Homo sapiens: one gene and its partners. The protein of the gene in region 1 interacts with the protein of each later gene in a biochemical or structural test. Each region holds a gene or a part of one and is shown in the gene's direction. Other genes may lie near its edges.

The links.
Region 2: of the proteins of NSF (region 1) and PTPN12, one has a biochemical effect on the other in vitro, tested with the Homo sapiens proteins (one large-scale study listed by IntAct).
Region 3: of the proteins of NSF (region 1) and PTPRG, one has a biochemical effect on the other in vitro, tested with the Homo sapiens proteins (one large-scale study listed by IntAct).
Region 4: of the proteins of NSF (region 1) and PTPRK, one has a biochemical effect on the other in vitro, tested with the Homo sapiens proteins (one large-scale study listed by IntAct).

Annotation. Positions count from the first base shown.
Region 1 is NC_000017.11:46,754,669-46,757,964, forward strand, and holds the end of NSF (vesicle-fusing ATPase), read left to right. Parts: intron 1-645; coding exon 646-701; exon of another isoform or gene 702-705; intron 706-1,133; coding exon 1,134-1,155; 3' UTR 1,156-2,796; downstream 2,797-3,296.
Region 2 is NC_000007.14:77,596,295-77,599,794, forward strand, and holds part of PTPN12 (tyrosine-protein phosphatase non-receptor type 12), read left to right. Parts: intron 1-1,547; coding exon 1,548-1,607; intron 1,608-3,500. UniProt on the Homo sapiens protein: Dephosphorylates a range of proteins, and thereby regulates cellular signaling cascades. Dephosphorylates cellular tyrosine kinases, such as ERBB2 and PTK2B/PYK2, and thereby regulates signaling via ERBB2 and PTK2B/PYK2.
Region 3 is NC_000003.12:62,201,571-62,205,070, forward strand, and holds part of PTPRG (receptor-type tyrosine-protein phosphatase gamma isoform 1 precursor), read left to right. Parts: intron 1-1,602; coding exon 1,603-2,380; intron 2,381-3,500.
Region 4 is NC_000006.12:127,975,100-127,978,599, reverse strand, and holds part of PTPRK (receptor-type tyrosine-protein phosphatase kappa isoform b precursor), read left to right. Parts: intron 1-1,545; coding exon 1,546-1,677; intron 1,678-1,817; coding exon 1,818-1,943; intron 1,944-3,500. UniProt on the Homo sapiens protein: Regulation of processes involving cell contact and adhesion such as growth control, tumor invasion, and metastasis. Negative regulator of EGFR signaling pathway. Forms complexes with beta-catenin and gamma-catenin/plakoglobin.

The DNA of each region.
Region 1 (3,296 bases):
CGAAGCACCTGAAACAAAGTTGCGCCATCTTTTCTTAGACTCATGACACATTCGCAGTCACAGGAGACCCAGATTCATCTGGAGATGATTTCAGGAATCAGCAGTACTCTTCATTTTTTTAGTTTTAGCACAACTTTGTTACTACAAAGAAGAAACTATATGACGGATACTGAGGCTAAGAAAAGCTACATGGTTGGTTATGTAGAGTTAATAAGCTATTTTTTAGTTGTTGAATTAACCTCAACTTGGTATCTTCTACTTTGCTGTGACTTTAGTAGCCTTTTACACCTTCAACAGGTGAATTGGTTGTCATTTGAACTCTGATGAATGGCCCTGTCCAGTCTCACAGCGATGCCTCACAGGCATCAGCACAGGGCACGCCTGGCCCAAGTGCCTATGATGGCCAGCGGGCTTGGGTCTTTTGGAACCCAGTGTACATAGTTCTGGAAAACCCCATTCACTTCCTCCAAATGATGTGATCTGCTTTGTTTTGTGTGAGAATGCTGGTCAAGGAGCAGGTAACACATTCAGTGACCTAGCAGAGCATTGATGAAGTGTGAAACCGAACACTGCCTTCTCATGAAGCAAGTGCAGAGTTGTTAGAAGGTACCATTAACCCATCTTCATTTCTTCTGATGTATTTAGATGGATCCTGAATACCGTGTGAGAAAATTCTTGGCCCTCTTAAGAGAAGAAGGAGCGTAAGTACATACAACATTTAATGACCATCAACCAAACTTACCACCCTGTTAAATCCCTGTGCCTATTCTAAGAGTTGCTTTCCTAGATAAGTTTGTTTCCATTTATTTGAATTCTTCGCTGTGTTGTAGGTCCGAGAGACCAAGCAAGGAAGTTGGTTGTACTGTTGGTTTGCTCTCCCTGTCCTGCTTCGCAAAACTTCCTTGTCACAATGCAGGAAAAACTTAATGGTACATATTTATTGGAACCTGCTTTTACATGCATGGAGCTGTGACCATTTTCTTTTGTGAAGTGCTCATCTAATAGCAAATGCATAGTGGGAAATGTAGGATAACCATTAAGAAGCTTTTAGTGATTTTTTTTTTTTTTTTTTTGATGAATAGTTTTTTACGGACCCTCATCTGTTTTTTTGTGTTTTGGTATTTCTTTTGCAGTAGCCCCCTTGATTTTGATTGAAAATGAACTATTTGAAACACACAGTGACCAAGGGAAGTGACCAAGGTGAAGATGGCCTAGGATCTTCACTGTCTTACTCAAGATACTGGACTAAGTGGAACGTTCTCTACCTTCAACATGTGCTCGCTCTGCATGATTAGTGCAATAAAACTCCCTTCCTTATGCATACTGAGATAGCTTAGTGTCTCGTGGAAGGTGTCAATTTGGTTTAGAATGCTGCGCTTACCTTCCCATGCAGGCTAAAGTGATTCCTTCTTGCTCAGTCCCTCTGGGTGGGAACCATCCAGTACTTGTGGACACTACACGTTTCAACCTCTCTACTAGCACCATCACCCTTGAAAACTCTCAGTCAGTGTCATGAATGTTGCATGACAACAGTTGGCCGATTAGAAGGCAGACTTTCTACATGCAAATCTGGCTTAGTAAATCGAGGTGTGGGCCAGAGATCCTCTGACAGCTGTCCTGAGCTAACACTAAAAGTCACTGGGTATTTGGTTAAAGGTCTCCCACAAGACTGGTATTCTCTTTGCCTGAAGAAACAAGGCATTGAATCTCTAAAATGCTGTTCTCAATCATTGTCAGAGATGTTTTCAAGTTGCAGTCAGAAGATCTTTCTTAATAGAAAGTCAGATGACTACCGTGTTGGTTGTGACTTCCCCTTAAGTATAACTAATTTGCTCTGTGGTAAGAGATATGCTCATTATTACCACTTAGAAGATGTTGTTAAAAACATGTGAAAGATAGGTATGGAAAAAGCATACACCCCCAAACAGAAAGGAGTTATTAAAGTAATTTACAAACCTCTCAGCACTAATTAGTGTCCAACTCCAAGTGGGTCAATTCCTTAGTATAATATTAAGGCTTACTAGTATCACTGCTTTTTCCTTAGCTTAATGACTTACTTAGAATTTATCCTTTATTTTAAATGATCTGTACTATCTAGTGTCTAAAACACTATTCTCCAGAAAAATCAATCATTTTCTAGCCCTCTCCCTCAGTCCTTTATTGTCCATTCCAATACATTGAACACATTTCCTTTACCCTCCACACACTTCTTCCAAAAGGAAGCACCCGTTGAGTCCTTTTGAGGGTGATTTGTCTTACAACTGACTGACTTAGCAGGAATTTAATTAGGTCATATTTGGTGATGAGACTTATGGAGTGTGCCTCTCTCTCCCAACTGCTGCTTAAAATGCAAGGACAAGCAATTAGAAGCCATCCTAAGGTGCTTACCTCACACGCCACCCATGAGGCTTGTGGCCACAGTGGCACTTGGGTGTGGCTCCTCTGTTATTTGTCCTCATGTGAGAAAGCAGATCATCTCCAAATCTTGCCATTTGTATACTTTTGGTGGAGACTTGGATGTCATATCTTCTTTGTTTTGGGTTTTCTTCCCTAGCTTATTTTGTGGCTTTTAAAGAAGTGGATTGTATTGTGAGATCCTGTGATTCCTGGTGGCCAGTATCCTGGATTCCTCTAAGATCTTGCCTCTTTCCTCCTCATGAAAGCAGCACACATTGTGTTAACTTATGTCTCTTGTTAAATGAGCTTAATGTCTTTGTGTTTTGTCCAAAACTGTATTGAAAAAATATTGTTTAATGCAAATGAAGGAATGCAATAAAGAGTAAATATACTTGAAAATGTTCTGTAGACCAGTGTTTCATATAGAACGACATGAACAGCTGATAGGAATGGAGGAAGAAGGAGGGGGCTCAGGAAAGAAACCTCTCCGTGTTTTGTTACAAGTAGCATAACATGAGGGATGATTTTTATTTTAAAAATCTCTTATTTAGAAAGTATAGTTATTTAAAAACATCATTAGAGTATCAGAAAAAGTTAATATACAACCATCTTTATGCTTTATACTTATTTTATCTTACTAAAAAAAAAAAATGCCTGGCACGGTGGCTCATGCCTGTAATCCGAGAGGGAGGCTGAGGTGGGTGGATCACTTGAGGTCAGTAGTTCAAAACCAGCCTGGCCAACATGGTGAAACCCTGTCTCTACTAAAAATGCAAAAAACAGCCGGGTGTGGTGGCACATGCCTATAATCCCAGCTACTCAGGAGGCTGAGGCAGGAGAATTGCTTGAACCTGGGAGGCAGAGGTTGCAGTGAGCCAGGATCACGCCACTTGCACTCA
Region 2 (3,500 bases), on another chromosome or scaffold:
ACTTGATTCCCAAATTCACTTCTCTTATTTGTACATATTGTTTGGGTCTATCTGTTAGGAGACTTTATCTGATAGGAGACTTCATTTTAAGGTTTTTAAAAAAATTTTTTTTTTAGTGTTTTTTGTTTTGAGACAGGGTCTCACTGTGTCACCCAGACTGGAATGCAGCGACGTGATCGCAGCTCACTATATAGCCTTGGCCTCACTGCTGGGCTTAGTGATCCACCTACCTCAGCCTCCCAAGTAGCTGAGAGCACAGGCTTACGCCTCAATGTCCAGCTAGTTTTTGTATTTTTTTGTAGAGACAGGGTTCTGCTATATTGTTCAGGCTGGTCTTGAACCCCTAGGCTAAAGCGATCCGTCCACCTCAGCCTCTCAAACTACTGGCATTACAGGTGTGAGCCACTGCCTAACTTTTTCAAGACTATTTTTTTTAGAGCAGTTTTAGGTTTACAGCAAAATTGAGAGGAAGGTACAGAGATTTCTTATATACACCCTGTCCCCACACATGTAGCCCTCATTATCAACATTCCCTACCAGAGCAGTCTCTTTGTTACAATTCACAAACCTACATTGACAAGTCATTATCACCAAGAGTTCACATTTTACATTAGGGTTCATTCTTGGTGCTATACATTCTGTGGGTTTGAAGAAATATATGATGACGTGTATCCACCATTGTGGTATCATACAGAATAGTGTCATTGCTCTAAAAGTCCTGTGCTCCACCTATTCATTCATCTCACCCCCTTCCCAACCCTAGGTAGTCATTATTTTTACTGTCTCCATAGTTTTGCCTTTTTCAGAAGTCATATAGTTTGTTTTTGTTTGTTTGTTTGTTTGTTTTGAGACGGAGTCTTGCTCTGTCGCCCAGGCTGGAGTGCGGTGGCACTATCTCAGCTCACTATAACCTCTGCCTCCTGGGTTCAAGCAATTCTACTGCCTCAACCTCCTGAGTAGCTGGGATTACAGGTGCGCGCCACCACACACAGCTAAGTTTTGTATTTTCGTAGAGATGGGGTTTTACCATGTTGGCCAGGCTGGTCTCGAACTCCTGACCTCAAGTGATCCACCTGCCTCAGCCTCCTGAAGTGCTGGAATTACAGGCATGAGCCACTGCTCCCAGCTCAGAAGTCATATAGTTTGAATCATACAGTATGTAGCCTTTTCAGATTGGCTTATTTCACTTAGTAATGTGCATTTAGGGTTCATCCATGTCTTTTCATGGCTTACTAGCTCTTTTTTTCCTTTTATTATTTTTAATTGACACATAGTATCTATACTTATTAATGGGGTACATGTGATTTTGGTACATGTATGTGTAATTTAAAATGTGGAGTGACTAAATCAGGATAATTAGCATGTCTATCACTTCAAACATTTCAAATGTTTGATGACTTTTAGAATTTTTTTATAATTATCAGGTACATCTGGAATTTTAAAGATTAATTTTATATTGTGGACTTTGATACAAGTATTTTATTTGTTTTGATGTGTCTTTTTGTTTTAACGTTTTCACTGACTTAGAAATGTTTCTCTTTATTTAGGAGGATGAACAAGCAAGAACAGACTACTTCATCAGGACACTCTTACTTGAATTTCAAAATGTAGGTACTTACCATTTATAGACTATCTGTAAGAATAGTTTTCAGGCTGGGTGCAGTGGCTCATGCCTGTAATCCCAACACTTTGGGAGGCTGAAGTGGGAGGGTGACTTGAGTCCAGGGGTTCAAGACTAGCCTGGGCAACATAGTGAGATCTTGTGTCTACAAAAAGAAAAAAGTTAGCCGGGCATGGTGGCATGTGCCCATAGTCCCACTCACTCAGAAGGCTGAGCCCGGGAGGTTGAGGCTGCAGTGAGCCATGATTGTGCCACTGCACTCCAGCCTGGGCAACAGAGGGAGACTCTCAAAAATGGTTTTGAGAATAGAGAATAGTTTTCAAAGAGAAGACATAGAGAGGGAGGGGAGCGTGGGCTGAAAAACCACCTATTGGGTAGTATGCTCACTCCTTTGGTAAGGATCATTTGTATTCCAGACCTCAGCATTATACAATACACCCATGTAAGCTGCACATGTACCCCTTAATCCAAAATAAAAGTTGAGGCCAGGTATGGTGGCTCACTCCTGTAATCCCCAACACTTTGGGTGGCTGAGGTGGGTTGGTCACTTGAGGCCAGGAGTTCAAGACCAGCCTGGCCAACACGGCGAAGCCCCATCTCTACTAAAAAATACTAAAATTAGCTGGGCATGGTGGTGCACACCTATAATCCCAGCTACTCAGGAGGCTGAGGCACTTGAATTGCTTGAGCCTGGGAGACAGAGGTTGCAATAAGCCGAGATGGTGCCACTGCACTCTAGCCTGGGCAACAGAGCAAGACTCTGTCTCAAAAAATAAAATAAAAAATAAAATAAATGTTTTAAAAATAGAAAATATAATACTACTACCTAAATGTTTTATTTGGTAAAATGGGTTTGCTAGAAAATTATTTTGCTTTATATCTGCAAAATGCAAATAATATATATAATATATATTATTATTTTGCTTTATATCTGCTTTATAGTTTTTTGTAAGTAAAAAAAGTAACAGCAATTTTTATTTTTAAAGCATGTGAAGTTAGTTTTTGTCTTTGCAAACTAATCAACTTTTAGCTACTAAAAAAATAAAACAAGCTATATAAATAGTATACTATGTTATTTAACATAATTAATGAAATTTGGTAATTTTTTAGTTACGAAGATGAAATGAGAGTGTAATATTTAGTCTTGACATTTATGCTTATCACATTACATAAAAAGTAATATTAATTATAACATACCCTAAATTTGTTAAATTTGGAATAGTTATACCTTCTTTGCAGCAAATATTTTTATTCTATTGCAGTAAGCAGGTTATTGCATTGTTTATATAATTATTACCCTGTTTTACTGGTTTACAATTTGTTAAAGAAAAGTCACTATCAAAGCTAAGTCTTCATTTAGATATATATTGTTTTTAGTTGAAACCCCCCACAGCGCCCCGACTTTTTTTTTTTTTTTTTTGGCAACAGGGTCTCACTATATATTGCCCAGGCTGGACTCAAACTCCTGAGCTCAAGCAGTCCTCCCATCTCCACCTTCCTAGTATCTGAGACTATAGGGATGAGCCACCAAACCCAGCTAAATTTTTTATAGTTTATAGAGATGAAGTCTTGCCATGTTGCTCAGGCTGCTGTCAAATTCCTGGCCTTGAGTGATCTTGCCTTTTGCATTGGCCACCCAAAGTGTTGGGATTACAGATGTGAGCCACTGAATCTGGACTGGTTGCTAATTTTTTAATCTACGGTAATAATAATAAGTACCTTAATGAATTTCTGTGGTAGATCAGGCATCTTAATTCTGCTAACTGCATCATATCCAGATACTGTTACGTCTGTTGCACATAGATGAAGATACAGAAGCTTTAAGAAGTTAAATAGCTTACCTGAAGTTATTTAGGAAATGGCCAAAGTAGGAATTTGA
Region 3 (3,500 bases), on another chromosome or scaffold:
AAATTGCTTTGTCGTGGCTGGTTGTTAATTTGCTTGCAGTTAAAACTGTCACCACGAAGTGGCAGTATAATGTTGTTAAACTGCTCAGTGTAAAGCGGTTATAGTAGAGAAAAAATTACATTATTCACTTTTTATAATTCAGTACCTTATGAACACAAGCTGTGCAACAGTGTTAGGTGGTTATATTATATAATTTTGTGAAGGTAAAAATTCTTCATATTTTTAGTTATGATTTGTGGGATCAGACGATGCAGGACCACAAAGGAGTTAAATCTGTTCCAACCCTTTCATTTGACATATACTCAAATTCAGAGGTTGTCATTTGCGTAAAGTTATATGGATCTGAAAATTTCTGGAACCAGAATTAATATCTTAGTTTCCCCATTCCTGGTTGGTATAATGAATAATTAAAATACTAATCACAGCAGTGGTGATAATAATAATAGCCTAAAATTCACTATGCTCTTCCTGGGTTTCAGGCACAGATTATTTTATTTACTTCTCCAGGCAGCCCACAAGGTCAGTGTTACTGTTGTTCCCGTTTTACAGATGAGGAAACCGAGGCTCAGTGAGTTAAAGTAATGTGTCCAGCATCACCCAGCAGGCAAGCTAAAATTAGACTAATAGCTCAGAGCAGCACTTCTTGTTTTCCTAAGATACCTTATGTGAGTAAAACCCCCAGACTTGAGCCCCAGTTTAGTATGGTGGTAAGAACAAGCCGAGTCTTAGACCCAGGCAGCCCTGCATTTGTGCCTTCCAGGTCATGTACCTTGTGTAAGCTCTTTAACATCTCTGTGTCTGAGTTTCCTCACCTGCAAAATGGGGTGATGATCATGCCTGCCTCCAGAGTAGCATGGAAAGCCCTGGCACACGGTTGGCATTTGTTAATTGGAATTCTTGTTATTGTTGTTGATGTTGTTGTCATCTGTATGGGCTCAGATTTTCCCACGGATCAACTTAGAAACTGCAAGGTACAGTGACTCTGCAGTGCCCAACATGGAGATGCAGAGATGTAAACCAGTGCCCAGAGCATGCAGTGCAGAGCATGGCTCCTGCCTCTGACCCTGTCATTGCAGACCTGGGCAGGCTGCTTTCCCTCCTTGTCCACCCACTTCCTCACTGGGAGACAGTGGGGTTGGACTGGATCACCCAGTATCTTTCCAGACCTAGAGCTGAGTATCTACTCAAGTGTCAGTGATATACATAAAATCAAAGGTCTTCTGCCTCTCATCACCCCAAGAACAGATGACCATCTGATTTTTCCAGTTCATGACTTCTTTGTTGTGTAAGTCAGCTTTAACACTACTTAGTTTTTTTGGCACCTAGCCTCATCTTGGGTAATATCAGTGAAAAGCTGAGTTTGATCGACTAGTTATGCATTTTAACATGTTCACAATTATAAAACCATTAAAAATAAAAGTTGATCACCCATGGACCACCTAATGTCAACTTTATGCCATACATTGGAAAACTCCATAGCATAGATGAGTAAAATCCTCAGAGGGTGACAACCAGGGCCTCATTCCCAATCTCAATTACTGATGCTTCTCTGCTTTTTCTTCTTCTGCCTCTTTTCCACCCTTGCCGGGTGACCCTTTCCAGCCCACAGCGTCTCCTGCCTCTTCAGCCGACATGGCCCCCATCAGCTCGGGGTCTTCTACCTGGACGTCCTCTGGCATCCCATTCTCATTTGTTTCCATGGCAACTGGGATGGGCCCCTCCTCCAGTGGCAGCCAGGCCACAGTGGCCTCGGTGGTCACCAGCACGCTGCTCGCCGGCCTGGGGTTCGGCGGTGGTGGCATCTCCTCTTTCCCCAGCACTGTGTGGCCCACGCGCCTCCCGACGGCCGCCTCAGCCAGCAAGCAGGCGGCTAGGCCAGTCCTAGCCACCACAGAGGCCTTGGCTTCTCCAGGGCCCGATGGTGATTCGTCACCAACCAAGGACGGCGAGGGCACCGAGGAAGGAGAGAAGGATGAGAAAAGCGAGAGTGAGGATGGGGAGCGGGAGCACGAGGAGGATGGAGAGAAGGACTCCGAAAAGAAGGAGAAGAGTGGGGTGACCCACGCTGCCGAGGAGCGGAATCAGACGGAGCCCAGCCCCACACCCTCGTCTCCTAACAGGACTGCCGAGGGAGGGCATCAGACTATACCTGGGCATGAGCAGGATCACACTGCCGTCCCCACAGACCAGACGGGCGGAAGGAGGGATGCCGGCCCAGGCCTGGACCCCGACATGGTCACCTCCACCCAAGTGCCCCCCACCGCCACAGAGGAGCAGTATGCAGGGAGTGATCCCAAGAGGCCCGAAATGCCATCTAAAAAGCCTATGTCCCGCGGGGACCGATTTTCTGAAGACAGCAGATTTATCACTGTTAATCCAGGTAAGTGGTGCAGGTCTTCTTCGAGGGTTCCTGCTCCTGTGAATAGTCGTACCCTTTTTCAAAAAATTGGGAGCAGAAGGTGAAGCTTCAGAAGGTACTTAATATTCTTAGAATCATATATGTCTGTCATAGAAAAGGTGCACACATGTGAAATGTGTATGTGTGTGTCCCTGTTTTACTCCAAAAGCCTACTCTCTTACGCTGGAGTAAGTCTTTCTTTGATATTTGTTTTCTTGCCTCGGAATAACTCCAGGGACTTCAACCAGGCAATGATATACATGAATAAAAAAAGCCATCGATCTTAAGAAGTTTATTTATTAAGATTTCATTCCATATTCATTATATAATGTATCTACAAATGGCTAGTTTGGTGCCAGGGACTGGGCAGGGTGCTGTCCCAGGGGATCCTAGTCCCTGCCTAAAAAGTTTAAAGGGGAAGGCAGACAGATGACAAGACAGTAGCTAGCTGGAGCGCATGCCCAGAAGTTAGGTAGCAGGAACGTTAGAAAGCCAGCAAGCTAGATGGTGGTTAGTCGGCAAGCTAGATGGTTAACTGGCAAGCTGGAAAACTAACTAACTGAAGTTTTCGATTGTGAAATGGTAATAGAGGAAATAAACAGGATGCTGTCCAAGAGAATTATGGAGAGGATAGGGACCTACCTTAATTAAGAAAGGCCACTCTGGAGAAGTGGCTTGTTCATGGAAACCTACAGAATGAAAGGCTTCAGCCTGGGGAGAGCTGGTATTGGCCCATGGTCCTTGCCCAAGAAATACGGCCCTCTCTCCCAGAGCTCCCATTGCTGTGGGAATGAGCCAGTGTATAGACAGTGAGGCCAGGGCATGAGATCCTCATCTCCTGGTGGCAATTTTGTTGCTCTATCATATGCTCAAATCTTAATGAACCATCCTGATAGTTTCTGCAAGGGAGCCATAAGCATGAGGAGTTGTTATTGTTGTGAGGGCTTTTCTTAATAAGAAATTCTTCATTTTGCCAGACTACAAGATGTTTAGCAACAATTTTTTTTGCGTCTAAGCTGTTGTGGAGTTATAAGAGTGCAAAAAAAAAGCAACTGGTAAATATTTATTTGCTTTTGCACTTGTAAACATTAAAATTCATCTA
Region 4 (3,500 bases), on another chromosome or scaffold:
CTCATTGTATTAGTTCATTCTCACACTGCTAATAAAAACATACCTGAGACTGGGTAATTTATAAAGGAAAGAGTTTTAATTGACTCACAGTTCCACAGGGCTGGGGAGGCCTCAGGATCCCTGCAATTATGGCCGAAGGGGAAGCAAACCCGTCCTTCTTCTCATGGTGGCAGGAAGGGGAAGGAGTGCCAAGCAAAGGGGGAAGCCCCTTATAAAACCACCAGATGTCATGAGAACTCACTCACTATCTGGAGAACAGCATGGGGGAAACTGCCTGCATGATTCAATTATCTCCACCTGGTCCTGCCCTTGACATGTGGGGATTATTACAATTCTAGGTGAGATTTGGGTGGGGACACAGAGCCAAACAATATGACTCATGAACCTTCCTGCCTTTCTTAGGAGACACTCATCCCAGCTGCACGTGTAACTTGGTAAGGTTTTGAGGTCATTTAGAAGTAGCCAGGTAAATTATTATTGTCATCTACTCAGATTTATCCTGCAGTCTTCAGCCAACGCTGAATGCCATGGTTGGTAGCATTTCCCAAATGGTGGTAGCATCAGTGAAGTCCAAGAACCAGTTCCTGTGCTGATGTTAAGATTCTTGAAGGACTTAAATAGTAGTATGATACAAATGAGTTACAAGATCATTGAAAATTTTTGTCAGCATTAGGGAACTCTATAATCTACTAATTATTATTATTATTATTGCAAATAATTAGTTTAAATCAAATGGCAATTGTCCAGTCCAGATAAATATTGTTTTTACTACTTCTCCCTTTGGAAAGAGATAATATATTGTGTTCTAATCAAGGAGGACTTGGTTAACAAGGAGCTATCTCCCCGCTTATGTGGGGACAGGAAATATATTGCTGTTATGCTTTGGTGCTTCAGGATCTTAAATGGTTGAGACTGTCATTATGACCTTTGATATATGTTAGAAATGCCCAGGAAGCTGTGGAAGGTGGATTGTCTGCAAGATGTGCAGAATATCCTGGTAGTGTCCACATAATGTAAAAGCACAAGTGTTTGAGCTACTTGTGGTTTTTCTTATTTGGAGTGGAGAAGAGTAAAACAATTTTACTTGCACGCACACACACTATACACATACCCAGATGATTGATAGACATACCAGGGGTTTTGTGCTTACTTTGCCTTCAGCCTCTCAGAGACTGATTACGTTTGGAAAATTGAAATAGCCCAACAGGAACCTTACAGAGGATGTTAACCTCAGAAGCTTTTTAGTTTCTTCTTTTGTATTTGTCCTGTATTTACGTCTTTCAGTAAAGTAAAAACTCAGTTATTGACTTGAATTGCTTTGGAAGCATTGAAGTCTTCCACCAAATTGATTCATTACTGTACTAATTCAGTTCATTCCAGTGGTCTGAATCTCCTATTCCATGGTTTAATCATCACTCTGGCTCCTTCTGCATATGAAGCTATTGCATCTTACTGGTCCTACATTGAAGTGTATTGTATCTGTTTGTACAACCGATCATACATTTTAAGTTTTTATATTTCTCCATCTACCTTGTTTCTTCACAGAGCTACAGGCAACCAGCTGCTTTCATCGTCACACAATACCCTCTGCCAAACACTGTAAAAGACTTCTGGAGATTAGTGTATGATTATGGCTGTACCTCCATTGTGATGTTAAACGAAGTCGACTTGTCCCAGGTTAATGGCTATGGATTGCTTTTATGTACTTATATACAACTTAATAGAGTAGTAATGAATTGCTAAAATCTGCTTTATACTCTCCTAACTAGAAAAAATAATACTCTTTTTTTTTTTCTTTCAAAACGTTCATCATTTAGGGCTGCCCTCAGTACTGGCCAGAGGAAGGGATGCTACGATATGGCCCCATCCAAGTGGAATGTATGTCTTGTTCAATGGACTGTGATGTGATCAACCGGATTTTTAGGATATGCAATCTAACAAGAGTAAGTCACTATCGGATCCTTTGAGCTGATCTAGAATAGGTCAGTCATAACCAAGATGTGGTATAATTTTATTCAGACAACAGGGAGACTACAATTAATAAGCACTATATCATCCACCTCAAAGCTAGTAACCATCTTATGCCTTAGTACTCGAATAAAAATACAGGAAAACAGAAATGCTGGAAGCTAGGTTTTTCGGTCAGTCACTAGACTAGCATATTCTCTCAGGAAATACAGATGCACTGGCTCAGTCAAGTTGGACAGCCTAGGCCTGGCCTCTGAGTGTATGTAGACTTATCTTAAGGATGACTGCATGTTTTATTAGTATTGACATCCAGCCCAGAAATGGCATGTGATAAAAAAAATAAGAACATTGCAATAACAATAATGACAGAGAAACTGTACTGCAGGAGGAAAGAGACATGTTGGATCAACCATTATAGAAGGGTTCCATGTCACTGTTCCAAGTTCATTATTGATTATCCTACCTGCAATTTCATCTTCCTAAACGTCTCAACCTATGGCTCTAAGCAGATCTAAAGGTAGAACCAGTGCTGCTACCACCATGCCTTTTCCCAGCAGCAAAGTAGTAACTGTATCGTCTTTCTCTGACTCCTCATTTGCTTTCCACTACATGACAAATTCAATGTGGGTGGGGAAGATCTTAAAAAAAAAAGTGCTAATAAAGCCCGGGCACAGTGCCTCATGCCTGTAATTCCAGCACTTTGGGAGGCCAAGGCGGGCAGATCATAAGGTCAGGAGTTCAAGACCAGCCTGGCAACGTGGTGAAACCCCATCTCTACTAAAAATACAAAAATTAGCTGGACATGGTGGTGGCATGCCTGTAGTCCCAGCTAGTGGGGAGGCTGAGGCAGCAGAATCATTTGAACCCGGGAGGCAGAAGTTGTAGTGAGCTGAGATCACGCCACTGCACCCCAGGCTGTATAGAGCGAGACTTCGTCCCCCAAAAAAAGATATTAATAAAAACAATTTAGATTATGTAACCAAATAACAAGCAGAATTGGAAAAGAAAACATTAGTAACTTTCATGAAATTAAGCTCTTTTTAGAGAGAAACATTACTCTGTTTTTTAAAGCACCAGCTCTGTGGGTATGTATTTTAAGTGTGTGATTAGGATTATCATGTTTCAGTGTCTCTCATATCAAAATGACTACGTGTGTGTCTGGTTAATAAGTCTATATGTATATAACTATGAGCAGGGAATGGAATCATATCGACTCCTATTGCTCATTTCAGTGGAGAAAAAAAGGATAACTTCAATCATCTCATAATATTCATGCATATCTTAGATGTTAATTTAAATGGAATCTCATTATGTCTGCACATCTGTTACATTATGGTTCTAGTAATATTTGAGTTGGAAAAAAACAGAACTGCTGAAGACAGTAAGGCTTGTCTGTTAATTGAGCAGTTTATGTGAAAAATATTCTAGGAACAGGAACTGAAATGTTATATTTTTGTCAGCATATTTATTTATTTGTTTGCTTACTTATTGAACTGCCTCTGTATTTGGTATTCTGGTCCTTATTAGTACAT